Regions from separate parts of the Homo sapiens genome. Here region 2 is linked to region 1. Evidence: fine-mapped expression QTL. Tissue or cell type: thyroid. Region 1 holds a variant in brackets; the other region holds the start of a gene. All regions are shown on one strand. Distances are from middle to middle.

Region 1 (8,104 bases):
AGCAAACAAATATAAGTGAATCTAGGAGAAAACGTCACAGACTCCTAGAGTGTTCAGCTGTGAGATCTTGGCAGTTTCTTTTAGTCTGGATCATTCCTCCTATCTTACGTATTTATTTTTCAGTAATATAGACATCACTGGACACTTTTTATGTGTCAGGCACAGAACCCAGAACTTCCAGAGTGCTCCACATGGAGATGGCCTGGTCCCTGCCTTCAAAGAGGCATTCGTCTGTAGGGCTGAGAAGAGGAAGACACGTTCCCCCAGATGAACTGTGTGGTACAAGATCAAAGGTGTTGAGTGGACCAGAAAGGCACCCATGCTGATCGCGTTCAAATGAGGGAGAAAGAACACCCTGCTGAACCATCTCTTTGGCTGAACTGTCTCCTTTTCAGATGAGGAAACCGAAGGCAGGAGCCACAGGAAGCTTGCTGGAAGCGGTGAGAAGAGGGCCAGCGTCAGGGATAGAGGTCAGCTCTCCAGGAGAAATCCCGCAGTGGCTGGAAGGGACAGCACCCACGGCAGTCTGGAGAGCAGTTGAAAAGCTGGATATCAGGAATCACAAAGTCTGGTCATTTGGAAACGTATCTTTAGGAGAGGTGAGAACTGCATGTACTTCCACAGCAGCAGGTCGGAGCAGGAGGAGCATGGAGCTGAGAGTCCTACAGGCCTGGATGTGGATCCCGGCTTGCCCGCTTGCACACCACGTGATGGCAGGCAGTGTGCTTCTTTGAGCCTTCGTCTTCTCCTCTGTAAAACGGGGGTGACATACCTGCCTCCCAGACTAGTTATGTGCATTCAGCGGGATATCCCAACATCGCACACACCATGCCTCGTGCTGTGTTTGGTACATTGCAGGTGTTTGCCAGGTGTAAGTTTTCTTCTCTACCTGCAGATTATGGCACAGTGTGACTGGTTTTCTTAATGAGAACCCTGAGTAAATTACACTGAATATATGTCTTATTGAGATGGGGAGGGAGAAAGAGACATATGTAATATTAAAAAATAGTTTCTGGCCGGGCGCGGTGGCTCACGCCTGTAATCCCAGCACTTTGGGAGGCCGAGGCGGGCGGATCATGAGGTCAGGAGATCGATACCATCCTGGCTAACACAGTGAAACCCCGTCTCTACTAAAAATACAAAAAAAATTAGCCTGGCATGGTGGCAGGTCCCTGTATTCCCAGCTACTTGGGAGGCTGAGGCAAGAGAATGGTGTGAACCTGGGAGGCGGCGCTTGCAGTGAGCCGAGATCATGCCACTGCACTCCAGGCTGGGCGACAGAGTGAGACTCTGACTCGGAAAAAAAAAAAATTCTATCCAGCCGGGCATGGTGGCTCATGCCTATAATCCCAGCACTTTGGGAGGCCAAGGCGGGTGGATCACTTGAGGTCAGGAGTTTGAGACCAGCCTAGCTAACATGGTAAAACCCTGTCTCTACTAAAAAAAAATACAAAAATTACCTGAGTGTGGTGGTGGGTGCCTGTAATCCCAGCTATTCGAGAGGCTGAGGCAGGAGAATTGCTTGAACCCAGGAGGCAGACATTGCAGTAAGCCGATATTGTGCCACTGCACTCCAGCCTGGGCAACAGAGTGAGACTCCTTATTTTTTTTTTTGAGACAGAGTTTCACTCTTGTTGCCCAGGCTGGAGTGCGATGGCGCTATCTTAGCTCACCGCAACCTCCACCTCCCAGGTTCAAGCAATTCTCCTGCCTTAGCCTCCCGAGTAGCTGGGACTACAGGCATATGCCACCATGCCTGGCTAATTTTTGTATTTTTAGTAAAGATGGGTTTTTACCATGTTAGTCAGGCTGGTCTTGAACTCCTGACCTCAGGTGATCTACCTGCCTCAGCCTCCCAAAGTGCAAGGATTACAGGTGTGAGCCACCGCACCCAGCCTGAGACTCCATCTAAAAAAAAAAAAAAAAAAAAAAAAAAAAATTCCATCCAAAGAGAAAAATCTTAAAGAAGAGAGTCTCTTGCTGCTTCAAGAGATAGCTTCAGGAGTGAACTGGATCCTCTCTTGGAATTCATCCTCTGATGAACAGGGGACAGATGACTTAGTGGCATATTATTAGCTGGCTTTTGGGAACAGAAGGAGCCCTTATTCTTTCAGCCATCACACAGCCAGGGATAATCCCCACAGCCAGGGCAGAGCTGCATTTATCCCTTGATGGGCTGGAAAATATATGTATTGTGTCTCAAGAATGCAGGCCGGCTCAGCAGGCAATGAATCAGGTGGCTGCCCCCTTCTTCACGATGCTCGGTCACTTCCTGCCCAGCTATTTTCTCCACCGCCGCCGTTTGATGTTCAGTCCTGAGAACGGATGCTGGGGCTCCCAGCCTCGCAGCATCATGCCCAGGACCGCTGTCTGCCAGAGCATGAAGTCAGCCTTGGAGAGCACATGGCTCCTGGATCAAGAGCGTTCTCCATGCCCCACTGTGATGGGGATTAGGTGTCACTAGAAATGAGGAACTCGGTTATCCTGAGCCAAGACCATTCCCTGGCACTGAGGTGAAGGGTGGGGGTCCTAAGCCAAAATGCCCAGAGTCTCAAGAAGAAATTCAAGAAGAGAGAGGCCATAACTCTCCTTTTAGTTCAATTCAACTATATTATGCACCTTCCCCAGCTTTCTTTCTTTCTTTCTTTCTTTTTTTTTTTTAGACAGGGTCTCACTCTGTCACCCAGGCTGGAGTGCAGTGCCATGATCTTGGCTCACTACAACCTCGGCCTCCCAGGTTCAAGTGATTCTTGTGCCTCAGCCTCCCAAGTAGCTGGGATTAGAGGGAGGTGCCCCCATGCCAGGCTAATTTTTGTATTTTGAGTAGAGACCGGGTTTTCCTATGTTGTTCAGGCTGGTCTCAAATTCCTGTCCTCAAATGATCCACCCGCCTTGGCCTCCCAAAGTGCTGGGATTACAGGCAGGAGCCACTGCGTCTGGTCCCCAACTTTCTATCATGAAAAATGTCAAGCATTTAGGTAAGTACAAAGCGTAATAAATGAACACCCATATCTAAATGCGACCACTGTTAACACTTTGCCAGTTTGCTTTCTCCCTCTCTCCCTTCTCTTTCTTTCTCTGTAGCTAAGTCTTATTTTGCTATGCCATTTGAAAGTAGTAGACAATATGCAAATTCACCCTTAAATATTCAGTATATATCTCCTAAGAAAAAGGACAATCTCCAAAATGCCATTGTTTTACCCAATAAAATTAGTAATAATTCTATATCATGTCTTAGGCAGTTCGCATGTAAATTTTTCCAGTTCTTCCAACAATGGTATAGCTGGGTTCTCCCCAACCCCCAAGTAAAGATGGAATCTTTTTTTAGGCATTACACTTGATGAGTATGTCTCTTTAGTTTCTTTTAGTCTTGATCATTCCTCCTACCTTATTTAGTTATTTTTCGGTAATATAAACATTATCGGGGCTGAGTGCAGTGGCTGACGCCTGTAACCTCAGCACTTTGGGAGGCTGAGGTGGGTGGATCACCTGAGGTAAGGAATTCAAGACCAGCCTGGATAACATGTTGAAACCCTGTATCTGCTAAAAACACAAAAATTAGCCGGGTGTGGTGGTGGGTTCCTGTAATCCCAGCTACTCAGGAGGCTGAGGCAGGAGAATCACTTGAACCTGGGAGGCAGAGGTTGCAGTGAGCCGAGATTACACCACTGCACTCCAGCCTGGGTGAGAGAGTGAGACTCCATCTCAAAATAAAATAAAGTAAAAAAAAGTAAACTGAAATAAAATAAAATAAAATAAATCTTATTGGACATTTTACGTGCCAGACACAGAACCCAGCCCTTCCAGGGAGATACAGATGGAGACAGCCTGGTCTCTGTCTTCGAGAAGGCGTTCACCTCTAAGAGTGAGAAGAGGCAGACATATTCCTCCAAATGAACTGTATGGTACAAGATCAAAAGTGTTGAGGGGATCAAAAAGTCACACATGCTGATGGTGTTCGAATGAGGGAGAAAGAATGTCTCGCGGAACAAGGTGGCCCCAGGGAGGGAATGCTAGGGCACTCTGTGAAGAGG[C/T]ATTCATGTGGGGCCCTGTGGAGCAGGAAGAGTGCTCGAGAAGTCAAGGGTGCAAGAAGGCATCCTCAGCAAGGGGACAGGAGGGCCAAAGGCAGAAGTGGGAAAGCTCACAGGGGCCCAGGAAATGAAGGCTTCTGGAAAGCTGTGGTACAGGGAAAGCCAAGTCGACAGACATCAGACATTGATGGATTTCTCGAAGGGTCCTTTCCTCTGGGAGGGGAAATGGGTGGCTGGGGGGACACAGGACAGGAGGGGGACTTTCTTTTGGCTTTTTGCTATTTACCTTTCTGTAACTTTTGAATTATGTGCTTGGTATATGTGTCACCTATTCCAAAAACTAACTAACACTTAAAAAAAGGTCTAACATGGCCAGATGCGGTGGCTCACACCTGTAATCCCAGCACTTTGGGAGGCCGAGACAGGTGGATCACCTTAGATCAGGAGTTCGAGACCAGCGTGACCAACATGGTGAAATGCCGTCTTTACTAAAAATACAAAAATTAGCTGGATGTGGTGGCGTGCACCTGTAATCCCAGCTACTCAGGAGGCTGAGGCAGGAGAATTGCTTGAACCTGGGGGGCAGATGTTGCAGTGAGCCAAGATCGTGCCATTGCACTCCAGCCTGGGTGACAGAGTGAGACTCCGTCTTAAAAAAAAAAAAAAAAAAAAAAAGGTCTAGTATGAAAAATGCTTCCCACCTTGCAAATACAATAAAAATGAATATTATGCCTGCTTTCAAGAAGGTTATGTAGAGTCTTATAAAAACTCACTGTTAATGCAGGAGTAAAAATTGCTAGCACATTTTCGTCTCTGCTCTGCTAAAGATATTGTGAGCATTGGTTCATCTAATGCTCATGTAAACTCTGCGAGGGAGGCACTATGATTAGCTACGAATCCCAGAAGAGGAAACCAAGGCACGAGACAGGTAGAGAAACTTGCTTGGGGTAGGTAGCTAGTGAGTGACCGGCCAGGATTATAATGGAGTCCGGTTTGATGTCAGAGCCTTGCAGAGAACCACCTCCCTAACTATTAATACATGAGAAAAGATTAGGGGATGGACGGTTCAGGAGTTATGACATAAGCTGGAAAGTTTGCAAAGTTAATCAGAGTAAATTTCCTGAAAATGTCAAACTTCGATCTGTGAGTGAAAGGGAGAGCTGGTGCTGAAAGATGAACAAGTAATGAGTTGACGGGGAAACCTAAGCCACGGGGAAACCTAAGGAGAGGACTCAAGATGAGAGTCAGGTCCAAGACACTCAGCTGGCAAAAAGGAGACGACCCCGTATCTATGGTGGGGCAGGTGGCGGCTACCGTCGCAGGCTGCATTGAACTCAGATGATTGACGGGACCCTTGTGGTAGGGAGCTCAGAGCAACATGATTGAAGCCGAGAAGAATGATTTGAGCAAAACAGGTGAAGACAGATTCCAAGGACAAAAAAAGGAGGCAGGCATGGCCCAGGACCTTGCCAGGGGATTTGGAGAAAGGAATTAAAAGTAATGGATGGGCCTGAACAATGACATAGACAAGGAAGCAGATAAATTAGTCTGCCAGCTATATATCAGGCATGGAAGGGAAAGATCAAAGATCACTGTGAGGTTACCAAAGGGATGAAATTGGGAGCAAACGGCATCATGATAATAGAAAATATAGAAGAAAGGTGGCCAATTTGGGAGGTAGGGGTTGGTTAAAATGTAAGCCATAACCTTTATTTATTCATTTATTTTTATTTTTTATTTTTTTATTTTTGAGATAGAGTCTTGCTCTGTCGTCCAGGCTGGAGTGCAGTGGCACGATCTTGGCTCACTGGAACCTCCGCCTCCTGGGTTCAAGCGATTCTCCTGCCTCAGCCTCCCGAGTAGCTGGAATTACAGGCACCCACCACCATGCCCAGCTAGTTTTTGTATTTTTAGTAGAGATGAGGTTTCACCATGTTGGTCAGGCTGGTCTTGAACTCCTAACCTCCAGTAGTCCGCCCGCCTTGGCCTCTCAAAGTGCTGGGATTACAGGTGTGAGCCACCGAACCCAGACTATAACCTTTAATTTAACACTGAATTTTTGTTTAAAGCAGCGATTTCAAACCTGGCTATCCCTTAGAATCACCCGAAGAGCTGTTTGTATAATCAATTGGTTCTGGAAGAAAAGACTCTATAGCAATAGAGAGGATAAAATACTTAAGAATAAACTTAACAGGAGATATGCAAAACTTTAAACTGCTGAAGGACACAAAAGTAGATATTCCTTGCTTTGGATAGGGTGATTCACCATCATAAAGATGTTAATTATCCTCAAGCTAATATATAAATGTAATGCAGTCCCAATAAAAATACCAACACTTCCTTTTTCTGGAGCTAGAAACTTGATTTTAAATTTTGTGGATGTATGGTAAAGAAAATACTGAAAAAAGAAAAGCCACAGGAGGACATTCTGCCAGATACTAAAACATACACTCTAAAGTCTACATAATGAAGAGGGCAGTGCTATGCATGAAGAGACAGACTGACCAGCGGAACAGCATAGAGAGTCCAGAAGGAGGCCCGGATACTTATGGAAATGTGATACCTGAAATGGCATCTCAAGTCAGTGGACCAAAGATGGACTCTTTAATAAGTGGTGATGAGACAACCAGATGGCTATTTGGAAAAAAAATGAATCCGGATCCATACCTCACACATACACCAGATTAAATAACAAATAGATCAAATCAAAATGCAAAGCCAGGAAACAGGCACTAAACTAGATCATGGTAGATTCTTTTATAATCTGGAAATGGGGAAGGCCCACCATGACTCAAAAGCAGTAAAATAAAAAACAATAGATAAATCCAACATCATAACAATTAAAAATCTTTATAGGAAAATTAAAATAGAGCCAAAAGACATGACAGGCTAGGCACAGTGGCTTATGCTTGTAATCACAACACGTTGGCCAGCTGAGGTGGGAGAATTGCTTGAGCTCAGGAGTTCCGGACCAGCGTGGGCAACAGAGTGAGACCTTGTCTCTACAAAAAAAAACCAGCAGGCATGGTGGTGCATGCCTACAGTCCCAGCTACTTGGGAGTGGCTCATGCCTGTAATCCCAACACTTTGGCCAGCTGAGGTGGGAGAATTGCTTGAGCCCAGGAGTTCTGGACCAGCGTGGGCAACAGAGTGAGACCTTGTCTCTACAAAAAAAAAAAAAAAAAAACTTAAAAAACTAGCCAGGCATGGTGGTGCATGCCTGCAGTCTCAGTCTCAGCTACTTGGGAGGCTGAGGGGGGAGGACTGCTTGAGCCCATGAGGCCAAGGCTACAGTGAGCTACAATCACGCCACTGCAGTCTAGCTCTGGCAACAGAGCAAGACAAAAACAAAAACAAAACAAAACTAAAAGACGTGATAAAATGGAAGAAAATATTTGTAATTTACATCACAAAGGGCCAACTTCCTTAATGCATAAATAATTCTTAGAAGTTACGAAGAAAAAGACAAGGAAAACAACAAAACCCTGCAGATAGCAACAAATGGCAAATAAACAAGCAGACGGTTTATAGAAAATGATACACAGAAGGGCTTTAAACATATGAAAAATGCTTACCTTTCCCTATTTAAGAAAAATGCATATTGAAAACACACTTTCTAACCAATCACATTGGAGAAAATCCAAATGCTGGGCAAGACATTCTGTTGGCAAAGCTGTCATAACACACACACTCACACTTTTCTGGTGGGTGGAAAATTGTGCAACTGCTACGGAGGATAATTTAGAAAAACAAACTAGCAAAATGATACGTGCAATTTCCCTTCCATTGGGAAAACCACTTCTAGGAACCTACGGTAAGAGATATTTTCACAAATACTAAAATACTGTGAGCATAACGATATTTATTGTGGCACTGTTCATAATAGTAAAAGATTGGAAACAGCCTATGTTTATTGACAGGAGGCTAATTGAATAAATTATGTTATATCCACATGAGACAATGTTATGCACCCTTAAAAAAGAATCAGAGGCCGGGTGCAGTGGCTCAAACCTGTAATCCCAGCACTTTGGGAGGCCAAGGCAGATGGATCACTTGAGGATAGGAGTTTGAGA
Region 2 (8,104 bases), 66 kb after region 1:
TTGGCTAGGTCAATCAATACATGTTATCTCCTCAGCCACAGTGATTTGGATCAGCACAAACGGACAAGCAATCAGAGCCAGCAACTGCATTCTGAGACTTTGGTAGAGTGAAGAAACACAGTCCATATTCCACTGGACGTGGCATCGTGAAGATGTGAATGGGGGGCTGCAGGGCCACTGTGTGGAGCCCAAGAGTGAAGTTAGCATGACAGATGGTGGAACTGAGAGGTGGAGAGAAGGTAAAGTTCCGAGTCCACCAGTCTGAAGCCAGCACCACCCTTCACCTTTTCAGTAAACTGTACCAATACCTTTTCTTCTCAGCTCATAGCACATTTGAGTTATTTTCTAGCTTGTATCTAAAGGAGCCCTAACTGATCTACCTTAAAGATGCAGACGGAGTTCTAGCTGCCTATACAAGGAGCCCAGGCATCTAGGGAACTAGAATTTTCCCCACTAAGGTGGGACTCATTAGTCTTTATTCTAAGGCCCCTGAGAACATTCGAGCCCCACTAGGAGAAACTGTTTTAAAGAAAGTGAAGAAGAATCTGTCCTCTCACTTCTATAAAACAGAAGACGCTGTTTTATAGCAGATCCTTCTGACGTTTTCCTGAAGATGGGTAAGGATGATTAGAATTAGCCCCTTTTATTATCAGAAATGAGAAGAAAGGCCTAGAGAGCCCCGTTTTACTCCTGGGAGTTGGGCAGATAGACCCTCATTATTATGAGGAAATCTGATTTGCTGTCTCTCCATTTAGAATGCAAGGCTTATACCTGTGACTTCAGGGTTAAGTCCAACAAGCAGGGTCAGTACTGCAGGGATTGTGTACACCACCTGTTAGCAAAAAGGGAGGAAATTACATGAGTTAAGATGTATGCCCAATATATGAGATGTTCAGAGATACAGGAAGTAAAGAAAGATGAGATCAGTGGCTGCTGTGCCCCATGATTTGCCTCTAAGTTTCAATGGTGATTGAGAAAGTGGTAGATTCTCCTTTTGTGGCACTTAGCACGTCTGCCTGCAATTTTATCTACCTTCCTCCTAGACTATAGGCTATTCCAGAAGCTCATTTATCTTTGAGCTCTAACACTGAGCACAGGGTTTTGGTCTTAAGACACACTAACTTTCCAGTCGCTCCCAAGCAACTTTCATGCCCAAATGGCCTTTCCCCACTTGCATAAAAGAAAATGTTCTTTGAAAAGTAGGGCAGGAGCAGCCACGATGCTAGATGGCCCTGCTGGCTTTGGACCCAATGGACCATCCAGGCCAGTACTGCATCTCTGTGAGACCACAGAAAGTTTTCTAATAATGCATACACAATCAGCTGTGCCCAGTAATAAGGTCAGGCTCTTCATTTTGGAACTGCTGATAAGTGTTTGGAAATGAGAAGACTAGCCCTAAAGAGGCCCTATTCCTAAGCCTTGTTCATAACAAGCAGGCTCTAGCCAAACTTACTATTGTGTGTGTTGTTGGCAGGGAATAAGTAGGGAGGGTGGGTTTATAAGAAGGATGGGGACTTTCCAAACAATGTAGCTGTCTAATCACATCAATTTCTGTGCTTATATCAGAAGATGTTAAGGCAGGTGCCAGGGGTCCATGTGGGAGGTAGTGGAGGGCTGAACTGTGAATGAGGGAGGATGTCTATGGGGACATGGGGTCTATTCCTCCTATTATATCGTCTGAGCATGAATGAAAGGTAAAATGTGCAGGTACTATAGAGATAAGCAATTAGACCTCGATTGTTTAATTAATTTTTTGGAGATGGGGGGGGTCTCGCTATGTTGCACAGGCTGGCCTCGAACTCCTGGGCTCAAGTGAGCCTCCTGCCTCAGCCTCTTGAGTAACTGGGACTACGGATGCCTGCCACCATGCCCGACTCAAATTTATTTTGTGTTTTGAGGGGCTCTCCAAGGCAGTGGTAAGGAACAGAGAGATGATAAAGATGACTGAGATTCTGAACAAGAATGACTCAGAGAATGATTCTGCTGATAACAGAAATGGGTGAGTCAGGATAAGTAGATTTTGGAGGGAAAGATGCTAGGTAGGTCCTTGGGCATATCTGAGGAGCAGTGTGACATGCAGGTGAATATACGCAGCAGTCTTTTGGAAATTCACCATTAAGCTGGATGTCTGAGACTTGTCTGCAGGGAAATAATATTTGGAATTCAAGATACGGACCAGGGTGCCAAGGCAAAGGCAGTTTGATTTGATTCAGAGGCATACTGATCTGGATAGTAAATATCAGAATGTGGTTTTACTGCACTAAAAAAACAAAACCTGGATAGAATTTCATGTTATAATTCCAGATACCATCATCCTTGTTGCTCCTCTGTCAATATTATTCTAAAGCTTAAGAGTCATCTCCTTGGTGTACTGTACAGTCTTGTGTATCTATATTGAGAGAAACTGGGCAAAATTCAGATATTTTGGAAGATAAAAGATATTTAGAGCCGGGCGCGGTGACTCATGTCTGTAATCCCAGCACTTTGGGAGGCTGAGGCAGGTGGATCACCTGAGGTCGAGAGTTCAAGACCAGCTTGACCAACATGGAGAAACCCTGTCTCTACTAAAAATACAAAATTAGCTGGGTGTGGTGGCGCATGCCTGTAATCCCAGTTACTTGGGACACTGAGGCAGAAGAATCACTCAAACCTGGGAGGTAGAGGTTGCGGTGAGCCTAGATTGCGCCATTGCACTCCAGCCTGGGCAACAAGAGCAAAACTCCGTCTCAAAAAGAAAAAAAAAAAAAGATATTTAGAAGATGTATGGAACAATGGCCCCCTCCTCCAAATGGTTCAAATCAGAGCCTTGCTTATATGAAGACTGTAGGTTTTACAGGATTTAATACTTTTCTTTGCTTTTTTTTTTTCTTTTTTTTCTTTGCTTTTTTTTTTTTGAGATGGAGTCTCACTCTGTCGCCCAGACTGGAGTGCAGTGGCACGATCTCAGCACACTGCAACTTCTGCCTCCTGGGTTCCAGCGAGTCTCCTGCTTCAGCTTCCCTAGTAGCTGGGGACTACAGGCGCATGCCACCACGCCTGGCTAATTTTTGTATTTTTTGGTGGAGACGGGGTTTCACCATGTTGCTCAGGCTGATCTAGAACTCCTGACCTCAAGTGATCCACCCGCCTTGGCCTCCCAGAGTGCTGAGATTGCAGGCGTGAGCCACCTTGCCCAGCCAGGAGTTAATACTTTCTAGAAATATAAGTCACTGAATTAGCAGAACCTCAGAACTTAAGCCTGTTATTTTCCGGTCAAAGGTTTGCATTGAGTGTCTGGCTAGAAACTCATAAGGAATTGTTCAACTGATCTTGAGAGGCCTACTCTAGGTCCTCAAGAAAGTCCTCAGTTGGGCCATCTAACCAAAGGGAATACTGCAGAAAGACCTGTTTCCAGAAAGTTCGAAATTCACACACACATTACATTAGAACTCTGATCCTGCCTATTAATATTTTAGGAAAAAGCGCTTCCCAAGGGTTTGATTTTTAAGTTTCTCAGAAAATTAAGCAGGGAGGAGGGGTAAAGACATAAAACCGTGTGTTTTGTGCCGTTCCCCAATTCTTCCAAACGGAGGAAAGCCTGGAAGCGGCTCATACTCACCACCCACACCTCTGCATCTGGGTCATTTACCTGGAACGCCAGAATACCAAGGTGTTAGCAGACATCCTGTGCTGTTCCATTCCTTTTAAATTCATTTAAGCACATTTTTTATTAATTTGTTAAGTGCCAGACACTGCAATAGGCATCGAGGGTACAAAATCTGAACAGGATATAGTCCAGATGAGGACGGGTGAAGGGGTTTCTGGCTGACACAACAGATGTTTTTAACAGGCAGCCACACATTTTTGAAAAGCCTTCACGGGAGCTCTGGAGAGGACTCGCCAACCCAGAACGGGTATTTTAAGGGCCCTCCACCCCCACCAGTCTCAAGAAATGAGGGAAATGATTATGAAGGGGGTCCCCAAGCCGACTAAAAAGTTTAATGATGCTATAAAGGGTTTTGGTCGGCTTCGTCTCCTAGGCCCTGAGATATGTTCAGTGTCGTCCGCGGGCCGGACGTTAACGCAGGAGCCAGGGCCGCTTCTTCTGAGGTCCCCTGGGAAGTTCCACGCGCGGAACCAGCCCCTTCCAGGGTGTGAGCCCTGGTATGGGACTCGCTTCCATGAACACATCCGCGTCTCTTAGACGGGGGAGAAAGTGGGGGCTCCCCAAGCAGAAAGCCCAAGTCCCGTCCTCCCCACTAACTGTGCGCCCCTGCGACTCTGCCCGCTAGTCAGTTACACGGCCCGCTAGGCCAGGGGGCGGAGCTGGGAGCCGGGCGGGTCCCCCTCCCACCGCGGCCGCCTGACCTGCACCAAGGCCGCCAGCGCGAAGAAGGCGGCCATGAGTCCGTTGCAGGCCCGCCACAGCGCTGGCGCCATGGCTCGGAGAACACGGCGCGGGGCGGTGAGTCCTGCCACGTGCGGGGCGGTGAGTCCTGCCACGTACGGTCCGCCTTCCTCCTTGCGCGGAGGGACCGAGACCCCCGCCTCGGTTTCGGTGCCTTGGGGACACTGCCGTGGCCGTCGCTCCGCCCGGGGGCGGGGAGCGAAGGGCGTGGGTGTAGCCCCCACTCAGCGACCCATTCAGCCCGCCCCGAACGCCGCGGGGTGTAGGCGGCGCCGTCCTGGTTTCGCGGATGGGAAAGCGAGTCCCTCAGGGAGCGCAGGTCTCGGTGGTGGACGGAAGTCGAATTTGAACCCGTATAGGTTCAACTCCAAACCCTGTTTTCACTAAAGCTACCTTCCTCACAAAAAAAAAAAAAAAGAAGAAAGAAAAAAAAGAAGGAAAAAAGGAAGGAAGGCAGGCGGGAGGGGAGAGAGGAAGAAAGAGAAAGAAAGAAAAAGAAAGAAGGAAAGAAAGGGCTGGGCGCAGTGGCTCACGCCTGTAATCCCAGCACTGTGGGAGGCCGAGGTGGGCGGATCACCTGAGGTCAGGAGTTCGAAAGCAGCCTGGCCAACATGGTGAAACCCCGTATCTCTACTAAAAATACGAAAAAATTAGTCGGGCGTGGTGGCGGGAGCCTGTAATCCCAGCTACTCAGGAGGCTGAGGCAGGAGAATTGCTTGAACCCGGGCGGCGGAGGTTGCAGTGAGCCCAGATTGTGCCACTGCACTCCAGCCTGGGCAACAAAGCGAGACTCCTCAAAAAAAAAAGGATAAAAATTGTTTTTACAAAAATAAGAAAGAGAAAGAAAAAGAGATGTGTGTGTGTGTGTGTGTGTGTGTGTGTGTGTGTGTGTGTGTGTTCTGTTTAGTATTTATGCATTTCCTTCCAAAGCTCAGGAACTTTCAAATCCCTGTAAGCATTATGGTAATTTCTAGAGTGACGACAGTTATATTAACATCTTATACGGCTCACAGCTTTTCGGCAGACAGGCTCATTTATCTTCATGGGCTTTTATTATAAAAGATATTTACATATTATACATATTTACAATTCTCTCCCACCACCAAAACCAACAAAATTTCCAAAATTGCTCATGAATTTCTTATGAACCGAAGACACTGAAATATTCACTGTTCTCCCCTAGTCTGTCTGGTCTTTTTCTGTTTTGTAATTCGCCCTTCTGCTTAGTTCCTCCCCGGGCTCATTTACACATCCATAGGCCTCATTTCTGCTGTTCTAAAGAGTCTTTATCGCTTCAAATCAGGAGCTTCTGTGCCTGTCCTCTTTTCCTTTGAGCTAAATCTCCTAAAACTGTCTAGTTTTTTTTTTCTTTCCCTCTCAGTTTCATTCTTTTCACGAAACACTTATTTCAAGAACGTTGTCTGCTCTGTGCCTGGTGCTGGGACCGTGAAGGTCCCGTGCCGGGACTAGGCAGGGAGCCTGGCGGCTGGCGGGGGTGGGCACCCGTGTTTGCAGAGGTGGGGTGGGGACAGCGGGGACCAGCACTGGGTGGAGTTCCACAGCTAAATCAGCCCTGGGATTGGAAACAAGCGAAGACTATTCTCACTGTGCTTTTCCTTACATAAAAGAAAAAAATGAGAGCGAGAGTGCTAGGGGCTGACTTGCATTCCCCCTGCACCCCCAATTCATATGCTGAAGCCCTAACCCCCAGTGCCTCAAAATGGGACTGCATTTGCAGACAGGGACTTGACAGAGATGATTAAGTTAAAATGAGGTTATAGGGTGGACCCTAATCCAATATGACTAGTGTCCTGATACGAAGAGGGGACAGTTACAGAGGGAAGACCACATGGGCACACAGGGAGAAGACGGCCGTCTGCAAGCCAAGGGGAGAGGCCTCATGAGAAACCAACCCTACCAACATCCTGAATTTGGACTTCCAGCCTCCAGAACTGTGAGAAAATAAATTTCCGTTGTTTAAGCCACCTAGACTGTGGTACTTTGTTGGGACAGTCCTAGCAAATTAATACAGGGAATGATTATAATACCCACAAGGAAACAATGGCATGGAAGTGCTTTTAAGCTCTTGAATGCCATACAACCACCATGAAGTTTTATAGTTTTCACTGTTGTCTGGGACTTTCTTTTTTTATTTCTATTTTTTTGAGACAAAGTCTTGCTCTGTTGCCCAGGCTGGAGTGCAGTGGCACGATCTCAGCTCACTGCAACCTCTGCCTCCTGGGTTCAAGTGATTCTCCTGCCTCAGCCTCCAGAGTAGCTGGGACTACAGGCGCCCACCACCATGCTGGGCTAATTTTTGTATTTTTTTTAGTAGAGATGGAGTTTCACCATATTGGCCAGGCTGGTCTCGAATTCCTGACCTCATGATCTGCCTGCCTCGGCCTCCCACAGTGCTGGGATTACAGGCATGAGCCACTGCACCCGGCTGGGACTTTCAAAGTCACCTTAGTGAGCGTCTGTTGGTTTTGCCTTTGCAGGGTTCAGTCCCCTTTCTTCGAGGATCAGTGTCTTTAGTACTGTGGATTACCACATGCACTATGGGTGGATGTGGACTACAGGGTTGACCGTGCTCCCCTCCTTTTGGGGATAGGCAGGTGACTTTGGCCTGCCAGCTGACATATCCCATTCTGTTGACCACTGTGATTGGGTCTAGGATGGGTATAGGATCCAAATTGCCCAGATTCAATCCTAGGACCTATATGGGACTTAGGTTGTCAGTAAAGGACAACCTCAGTTGAACTGAATTTTGGATCATCAATGATGTGTTCCAAATATTTGCTAAATCTGGCAATCCTACTCACACTATTAAAGAGAAGCTTTCTTTGTGATGAATGTGTAGAGCTGGTAGAATGTGAGCCTGGAGCTGTCAGGAGAAAGCCTCACAGGGAGAAAGGCTTTCTGCAGGTGAAGTTTAAAAGCCTGGATCCAGCCATGCCTGAAAATGGAAGAATCTCACAACCAACAGAGTCTCTTCTTTACATAAGCCCGTGTGAATTGGGTTTTTGTAATTTGCAACAAAGAATGATGACTTGTAAAGTCATGATTCAATAGTTAAGGCAATGTGTGAAATCCTTGCAAACCTCCTGCTATAGGTTTGTCCAGGCTTTGCAGAGACACGGAAGAGAAGGCTTAGTCTGAAAAGTAATGAAAAATACGTTTAAATGAATCCAATATCTCAGACAGCTCTGCTTGAAGAGTAATTTCATTTCCCTTTTTAGCAAAAGGCTATGATACAATACTGCAGAGAAGATGAGGTTTTAAAGGCAGTAGGGTCTTGTCAAAGCTGGCTTCCCTCTGCAGAAAGGGCAGCACAAAGGACCCTTCATCCTGCTGGACACTCCCTGGCTGCCCAGTCAGTGACAGCATCATAAAAGCAATTGAGCCACAGGAGTGAGGTGAGCTGGACTCACTTCCCCGCTGGAATCCGAGAATGGCTGGACATCTGCCCTCTGAGAACTTGGAAATAGAGGTGCTTGCTTATTCCCTGAGAGTAGGGTTGTTAATCCAATGCTAAGAGTTGGAGCAGAGACAGGAAGCTCATATAAAGACACAAATGGCCTCCCAGGGTCACAGGATTGAGAGAGAGAAAATGAATGCATGAAAGTACGTAAAAGAAGAATGTCAGCAAAGGAGGATTGATGGGCTTGGAGGCTTCAAGTTAGGTCATCTGAAAGGCAAGCGTAGACCAAGTCCATC

Evidence for each region. PIP is the estimated chance that this variant, and not a neighbour inherited with it, causes the effect.
Region 2: it holds the start of TMEM220-AS1, and the variant in region 1 is fine-mapped to the expression of TMEM220-AS1 in thyroid (GTEx, PIP 0.98).

The regions. Positions count from the first base shown.
Region 1 is chr17:10,659,380-10,667,483 of GRCh38, forward strand. It overlaps a transcript of MYH3 not described here. Among named protein-coding and RNA genes, the nearest start is that of MYH3, 6.1 kb to the left of the region's middle. The variant C/T (reference allele first, on the strand shown) is at 4,035.
Region 2 is chr17:10,725,433-10,733,536 of GRCh38, forward strand. It overlaps TMEM220-AS1 (TMEM220 antisense RNA 1), which reads left to right and starts at 4,345. Exons shown (of 4, transcript NR_073458.1): 1 at 4,345-4,468. It overlaps TMEM220 (transmembrane protein 220), which reads right to left and starts at 4,591. Exons shown (of 6, transcript NM_001004313.3): 1 at 4,348-4,591; 2 at 3,599-3,628; 3 at 772-832. The coding sequence starts at 4,419. RefSeq lists enhancers at 4,043-4,629, 4,630-5,216 and silencers at 4,230-4,399, 4,410-4,649.